2 linked regions of the Homo sapiens genome follow. The gene in region 1 interacts genetically with each later gene. Each region holds a gene or a part of one and is shown on either strand. Other genes may lie near its edges.

Region 1 (4,099 bases):
TTAATAATTTTCAAGTTTTATTTTATTGGACTAGTTTTCCTTGGGGAGATAATTCAAAAGCAGGTAATTCTGCAGTTTTTGATTATGTTTAATTAATATTAATCTCACTGGGAGTTTCTGACGTGCTAATAAAAATGCTGGCTTGGTTTATGAAAAGTGTAAACTCTAAATGTATGCCAATGACTTCAAATTTTTTCTTGTTGAAACAAACATTTTGTTGGAAACTGTGAACTACATGGCAAATTCAATTTGATAATCCTTAACAATTTAAAATTTGACTTTCTCTGTATCAAGTTTTATGTCTTTCAATGTACATATAAAAAGTGTTACTTTTTAATTCATTTAAAATATAAATTTCAAAGTATGTACCAAAAAAAAAACCCCAATGGGGGTTTTTAGTCTTTGGTTTTTTCGTTTTTGTTTTTTTTTTTTTTTTTAAGGTGCTGGTAATCTATTGTGGGATGTCCATGAAGGATTAAATAGGAAATAGTTAATGTGTCTTTTAAAAAATATTCAGGAAAACAACAGTATATAATATTCTTTATTTTTTAAGGAACATTTCCTCACGTAATAGAATTACATTAGCTTACAGTGAAACTCATTTATTTCCACAAACGAAACTTTCCTATACAACAAAGCTTGACTATCTCTCAGGAAAACATATTTAATGACTTGTGTGGAGGAGAAAAAATTATGTGTGGAAAAGTAACTCAAACCATACAAGCTGTAATACACAGAAATGCCACAGTATATCCTATTAGCATGTCACTTTATGATTCGGAAATTTGGCTGAACAGGGCCATATCAACTTCACTATTTTATCCTTCCTCTGCATCTGAAGTGAGAACAGTGCATTACACTGAAATTCCAATTGGAAACAAAGACAGCACCACTATATTTAAAAGGGCAGAAAACCTATCTTATAGAACACTTCATCGCCTCGATTTCCCAGCCTCCAAAGTTTCAAGTGTTACACTTTCAACACGTTAAAAGCACTCAAATTCCCCATCTTTCAAGGTTCATATCAAAATCATATTCACTAGTTTAAATAGGAATATGCTACCAAATCTCACAACATTGACATTTTAACAAAGAGAATTCACATTAAAAGATAACTGCTTTAAAATGAGTGCTTGTGTTTGGGAAAGCGCTATTATCTTGGTAGTCCACAGAAACTGACTGTAGTAATAAGATGAATGGTGATGAGGGCAAGGAGCATCAAGTGGGAAATGCTATCTAAAATCCCATAGGGCAATTCATAGCTAGAGGGAAGAACAACCTTTCCTAAGATGCATTATTTCCTAGAACTCCATTATTTCATGGAAGCAGTTCAAAGCATGCAAAAAAGCAAAACCATTTTAAAACACCTAGTAAACTGGGCCTCTATCTTTTTTATATTATCATAAGCCCCAGGAGTTTTTGAGAACGTACCTTCTGTCACGGCTGTCTCCCCTTCCCATCCCTTCTTCAACATAGTTGTGTTTAAAAAATATATACCTGTACTTAAAACGCAATCCTACAGCCCAGCCTAGGAGCATTTCAAAATGTCTGTGCTGCTGAGTCTGGCTGTGGTTCCTAATAAATTCACCCCATTAAGTGTGATGTTTTAGGTTGGGCAACATAAACACGCATTTCCTACTTCCATGGATGCACATTTCCTGAAAGCACTGCACCTAAGGATGCTGCCCTGTCCCCCGACGCTCAGGCACTAAACTCTAAGGAGTCACGACCTGCACTCACAGCAGAGCCACACGGTCACCCCAGTGAGAAAGATTATCTGGCCCCAAGCGCCACTCTCTCCGGCCCACTGCATCTCCGGAACTGGCAGAGGAGAGCGAGGGTGAGAAGAGACCATGGGGAGCGACTGACAACAAGGCTGACACTTCCCCGTTTCCAGAAAGCGGCACTTGGGGGACACAAGGGATGTCCCACTAGCGACCGACCTCAGAGCAGGCCCTACGAACCCGTCCACCGATGGACATGGCGCGGCCACCTGGCCCGCCGTCCGGGGCGCCCGCGGCTTTCGCTCTCCCGGCCCGCGCCCTGGAGTGCGGCTCCCGCTCCCGGCCGCCACACGCAGTCTAAACACGCGGCGCTCGCCACCTCCCTGCCCGGGGGTGGGGGCGCCGCGCAGCGCTCGCGCGGACCCACATTTTTGCGGCTCTTGTCACGCACGAGAGAAAAGGCGAGGAGGGCGGAGGGGAGGGAAGACGCGGCAGCGATCCACGGAGACGGCCGGCGCCGGTGGCGTGTGCGCGTGTGCGCGGCGGGGAGGGCGGCCCCGGCGCCCCGCCGACTCCCGCTCCCGCCCCGCGCCCGGCGCCCGCTTACCTGCCGGGGTCGCTCCGAAGACTCGCACCACCGGCACCTTCTTGACAGGGGCCTGGGTGAGGGGGGATTGGCAGGTATCCAGCCCCTGCAGCGGGCTGGCCATGTAGTAGTCTGCAGTCACTATCCTTACTGAAAACATGTTCGCCGCCGCCGCCACTGCCTCCCTTCACTGGCGACCCGGCAGCGGCAGCAGCAGCGGCGGCGGCTCCCTCCGCAGCGGCGGCGGCGCCCCCTCCCCTTCTCGGCACGGCCCCCTCCCCTCACACAGAGGCACCTCGAGGAGCGGCGGGCGGGGCGGTGTAGGCGCTGCTGCCGCCGCCTCCTCAGGAGCACCCGGCAAGGGGCCGCAGGAGAGAAGCCCTCGAGCTTTCGTCGGTGCTGGTGCTGCCGCCACTGCCGCCACCGCCGGGAATCACACGGGCTCCTCGGTCCCAGGCTGCAGCTCTTGTTGCCATGATGATGATGTCACGGACGCAACCACTGGGGGGAGGGGAGAGGGGGGTGTGTGTGGCGAAGGGAGGCTGCGAGTAGTGCGGGGGAGGGGGCTCGGCGGGAAAAGGAGCGAGAGGGCGGGCGCCCGGGCGGGACACGGAGGGCGGGGGCCGAGAAGGGGCTTTCTCCCCCTCCCCGGGCACGCGGCGAGGGAGGCGGCCGGCGGCCGGCAGCGCCCGCGCGGGATCGATGACTCGGCTGGCGGGCACGGTCACCTGGGTGAGGGGCAGCGGAAGGGGCGGCGGAGCACCGATCTCATGGATGGGCTCCGAGGGGCTTGCGGGAGGGGGGCGCCAGTGTTCGGGGCCGTTTTGGCGGCTATGCAGGATTGGCAGGAGCTGCGATGCTCACACTTGCCTCGCCGACCGCCATTTCACATCCAGCAGAGGAGGCGGGGGCAGCCGCTGAGACGGTTTTTCACAAGGTAAGAAAATCCGCCCGCGTGAGGAGGGAGGCGAGGCGCAGATCTCGTGCCGCTGCGGCCTCGCGGGAGGGAAGGGCGGGCGGGCGGCGGAACGGGCGGGGCCGGGTGCGGACGCAGCCGGCCCTTCTCAGGTAACGCCGCGGCTCCGCGCGTGGCCCGGGGGCGGTGCGAAGGGTGGGGGCGCGCGGGCGCGGGCTTCGGCCTATAAAAGGGCCGCCCTGGCGTTCCCCCTTCCCGAACGTGCCGCGCGAGCCGCGGTGCCCCCTCCTCTTTGCTGCTGCAGTGTCTGCGCCGGGCCATTTAATGAGATTTATTCACGCACGGCTCTTCTCAGCTTTGCGAGGGGTTGGCAGATCCAGTGCACAGGGATTTCCCACTACCGTGTTTTTCTCCCGCCCCCTTCCTTCCCTCTCGTCCTAATACATCCTTCGTTGGTTTCCTCGGCCCCGCAGGCTGCGTCCCGGGCACGCGCAAGTACATGTAAGGACTTGTCAGCTGCCGGTGACCTCCCTCCTCCCTCGTCGCTCCTCCCCCAGCGGAATGTAGGATTAACAGTCTTTCCGAGAAAATTTTGGCCAAAGAAAAAGGCCTGTGAAAGTCACCGCGTTAGACGTGGCCTCCTCGTGTTTTTCACTAACACGTTATGGAAGGTTTTACTACCCGAAGGCATAAAAGCACCACCGTGGGGAAGGGCCGTTTTGAATAAACAACTTTATTCAAAAATCGAGAGGGGGTGAAGCGATGCAGTTAGGGAATTTTTGTTTTAAAGAGTAGTAACATGCAGCTGGCTTGGCTATTAAATTGGAAACAAGGGGTTCCTCTCTGACTTGGCCACTGATATTGGGCGTGACC
Region 2 (3,964 bases), on another chromosome or scaffold:
CTGATGGTCAAACTATGAAACCTGTAACTGAAGAACACGTGCTAAAAGGATCATAGAGCATGTTATCCTTACATAACATACTTAGAGGCATGTAACATACTTCGACGCATGTATTATTACAGCCTCAAACACCACCACCACCACAACAAAACAACCACTCCAGAATGAAAATACTGGTATATTTGTATAATGCAAAGAGAAATACAGATATAAATCCTCAAAACGGAAGGTACATTAATAAAAATGTAGCATTATAAGCCAAAAATATTATATAGTACTTGCAGAATTTAGTCTTTCAGTTTAACATTATAATGTCTAACAAAGAAATATTATTTAAATTATAGTTCTCATTATTAATTTAAAACAACCATCAGTAGAACAGCACAGCTTAACCTAGCAAACATTTTAAGGAAATGCTTTGTTTCCTAGAAGGAGGATATCATTATATTCCATTCATTTATACCATAAACAACAGAAGAACAATTTTCAAAGTGGAAATTAGTTTCATAAGACAGAATAAAACTGGGCTTCTCAAAGCACAAGCCATTTCCATAAAATTAATTTTTTATTGGCAAAAAATACTTAAAACAATTTTGATGTAGTACTCTGCTTCTCAGAGCCCTCCCAATCCTCGAACCACAATCTATACACACGAACACATGCAATACTGTATTTTTCTCCACATCATTACTAACCAAAACACTTTACTCTTTTAAAACTTACAACTTGACAGAAATGTTTCCATTCAAGATTGCTATAATACAGAGAGCAGTTGTCACTGACGTGGTTTTTAGCAGCAGAAAGTAAACCGGGAACCAAATCTTACTTGTTACTTACTGCTTTAAAAAAATGACTGCCTTGCTACTGATCTCCATCTCTGCTCTTTAAGTTCAATATCAACACTGAGACTTTCAAAGAACCAGCGCAGCACAAGGACCCTGCAGCCGGCAATTCAGAGGGCATTTCGGACAACTTCCCCCCACCCCCCACTTTCTCCTGCTTCCAACAGAAGATCCTCAAGAAATCTAACTTGTGAAGAAGTCCCCCTAGGTTCCTCTACTTCACTGCAAAATGTAATGCCACTTGAGGTTGTCAAAAATAGCTTCTGTAGAAAACTGGCCATGGTCTTTAGGAAACGTTGCATGAAGAAAATTAGTACAGCCTTTATAGAAAAAGAAAAAAAGGAACCACACATGGAATAAAAGACGTCAGTACCGCTACAAAAAGACTGCAGGGCCTATTGTCAGGAAGAAAGTCGAGTTAGGAGGACGAATGTGCGGAGCTGGAGTGGGCTGAGCATCCTACTCCTCACCCACCCCACCCCCAAAGGAGTCAGTACAATCCAAGTGTCTGTCCACTTCGAGTCATTTTGAAGGCAGCTTAGAAAATTAAACAGGGGCCAGAAGGAAAAGATACAACGTCACCGTCCGAGCCAAAGGGAAAGGCTGGGTTGGGGGTCTATGTGGCGGGGCCTCCCTCATAAACCAATGCCTTTCAGGTCGCAGGGATGGGTCGCCTGGGTGGTCCGGGGGCTCTGGCAGCAGGGGAACTGGGCCCTGAAGCAGTCCCTCAGCTCCCTGTTGAAGAGGAAGCACACGACGGGGTTGATGCCGGCCTGCGCGAAGGTCAGCCACACGGAGGCCGTCAGGTAGGCCTGGGGGACGGCGCCGGGCCGCACCAGGACCCGCAGGTAGCTGGCCACGACGTAGGGCCCCCAGAGGAGCAGGAAGAGCAGCGTGACGGCGTAGAACATCTTGCACAGCCTCTTCTCCGTCTTGAATTCTTCCAGCACGAGGAGGCGGCGCGCGCCGCGGCCCGGCCCTGCGGGCCGGATGCCCACAAGCGCGGGCGGCGTGGGCCCGCGGCCGAAGCCCGCCGTCCAGTTGGCGGCCGCCTGGCCGGTGGCGCCCGGGCCGTGGAAGGTCCAGTCGTGGCTGACGGCGGGCACCAGGCGCGCGGGCCGCATCTTGCGGCGGTCGTGGATGAAGAAGAGCAGGCGGAGGTAGACGAGGTGCGTGGCGCCCACCACCACGGCCAGCAGCAGCAGGAAGCCCAGCGCGCCGGGGGCGCCGTCGGGCCGCTGCTCCAGGGCGCACGGCGCGTCCTCGTCGTCGCCACCGCCGTCCAGCACTGGCGGGAAGGCCGCGGCCAGCGCCAGCGCCCAGGCGGCGCACACCAGCATGGCGGCGCACGGCCAGCCGGCCAGGCGCTCTGCATAGAAGCGGTGGTGCGCGATGGCCAGGTAGCGGGTGACGCCCACGCCCAGCAGCAGGAAGGCGGCGTGGAAGCAGAAGAGCGCGGCCAGGAAGGCGAGCAGCTTGCAGCCCAGCGCGCCCGGCGGCGCCCCCGCCGCGGCCGCCGCACGCCGCGCCGCCAGCATGACGGCCGGGAGGCAGGCGAGCGCGCGCAGCCCGTCGGCCAGGCACAGGTCGAGCAGCAGGTAGTACGGGGCGCGGTGCAGGCTGCGCTCCCGCACGATCAGCAGCGCGAACAGCACGTTGCCCGCTAGGCTCACGCACAGCAGCAGGCTGAGCGTGGCCAGCTTGAGGCCCAGGGCGGCCGCCTCGCCGCCGCCGCTGCCACCCGGCTCGCTCGCGTTCGCCATCGCGGCCTCACCAGGCCGTGCGCTCCGCCCCGGGGCCGTCCCCTGCCTCGCCGCTCCCGCAGGCCGCCCGGCCCGAGCTCCGCCGCTCCGCCGGCCCTGGGCGAGCTCCCCGTCCTGCGGGGCTCAGCCCGCTCCCGGCCGGCCCCTCCTGGGCTCCCCGAGCCGCCGCTGTGCCGCCGCCGCCATCTCAGGAATGGTGCGCGCAGGAGGAGGCGGCCACTCCCTGCGCCCTAGGCGCCGCGGGCTTCACTGCGGACAGGGCCTCGCCACCGTCCGCAGCCCCCCGCATCCTCCTCCGTCTCCTCCTACTCCTCCGCTGCTGCCGCCGCGCCTCTTGGCTCTGCCCCCCGCCGGGCCCGCCGCCGCCGCTGCCGCCGCTGCCGCCGCCGCCGCCGCCGCCGCGGAGCCCCCTCCCCTCCGCCGGAGCGCGCAGCGCGGCCGCCGCCGCCAGCCCCGCCGAGGCATCCCGCACCGCCTGGGCCCGGCTGGGCTGGGGGCGCCTCCGCAGCAGCCGCGGGGTCGGGAGGCGGCCGGGAGGGAGGCAGGGCCCAGGACGCAAGGTGGCGACAAGTCGCGTTTGGCCCCAGGTAACGGGGGTCCGGCGGCGGCGCCCGCGCTGGGGTCACGGTGGCCGTGCGCGGGGGAGGTTGCCTGGGCTGGCAGGGTCGGGAGGCCTCAGAGGGGACAGGAATATCTGGAATGAGCCTTCTGCCCGAAAGCTGGGAGTAATTTACGATAGTAATAGTCATCGTAATCCTAAAACCGCTGATACTCAGGTGCGCACTGATGTGGGTGGCAGTGTGCTGGGGAGCTTGGCAAGCATTATCTCCCTCAACAGTAATCACGAAGTTGTTGCCATCCTTAATCCCACTTTATACCTCAGGAAGCAGAGGCTTGGAGGTCAAGGGAGTTGAGAGCCGGGAAGTAGCGGAGCTGGGATTCAAATTTCGCTTGGTCTGATTTCCAGTGCTGGACTCACAGCGACTCCGCAGCATCCCCTGCTCGCTAACTCATCCGTGATCCCGGTGAAGGACCTATATCAGGGAAAAGAAATGCAGCATTTCATCTTTAAGTGACTTGGAAGGTGAACCCTATGCCACCTTCCTCCCAGGATATCTATTTTCTGGGTAAGCCTGAAAGGGCAGCCCCTGTTATGATTCTCAGACACACCGCATTTGTCTCGCAGGACCTTGCATGTGCTGGTACCTCTGCCTGGACCAGCCCCACAACAGGCTCCCTCTCCGTAGGGCCTCCTTCTAACCCGTCTGTTTTACTCTGTATCCCTGCCCTCTAGTCATTTCCTTCTTAGCACTTATAATTTGTCATTATATACTTTCATTTCTTTTTAAAAATCATGCT

What was found. Genes that interact genetically often act in the same process or in processes that back each other up.
Region 2: changes in REV3L (region 1) and GPR27 impair growth when combined (synthetic growth defect), as found in Homo sapiens cells (one large-scale study listed by BioGRID).

The regions. Positions count from the first base shown.
Region 1 is NC_000006.12:111,480,419-111,484,517, forward strand, and holds the start of REV3L (DNA polymerase zeta catalytic subunit), read right to left. Parts: upstream 2,801-4,099; 5' UTR 2,471-2,800; coding exon 2,332-2,470; intron 2,194-2,331; exon of another isoform or gene 1-2,193. UniProt on the Homo sapiens protein: Catalytic subunit of the DNA polymerase zeta complex, an error-prone polymerase specialized in translesion DNA synthesis (TLS). Lacks an intrinsic 3'-5' exonuclease activity and thus has no proofreading function.
Region 2 is NC_000003.12:71,752,691-71,756,654, reverse strand, and holds GPR27 (probable G-protein coupled receptor 27), read right to left. Parts: upstream 2,801-3,964; 5' UTR 2,606-2,800; coding exon 1,478-2,605; 3' UTR 159-1,477; downstream 1-158. UniProt on the Homo sapiens protein: Orphan receptor. Possible candidate for amine-like G-protein coupled receptor.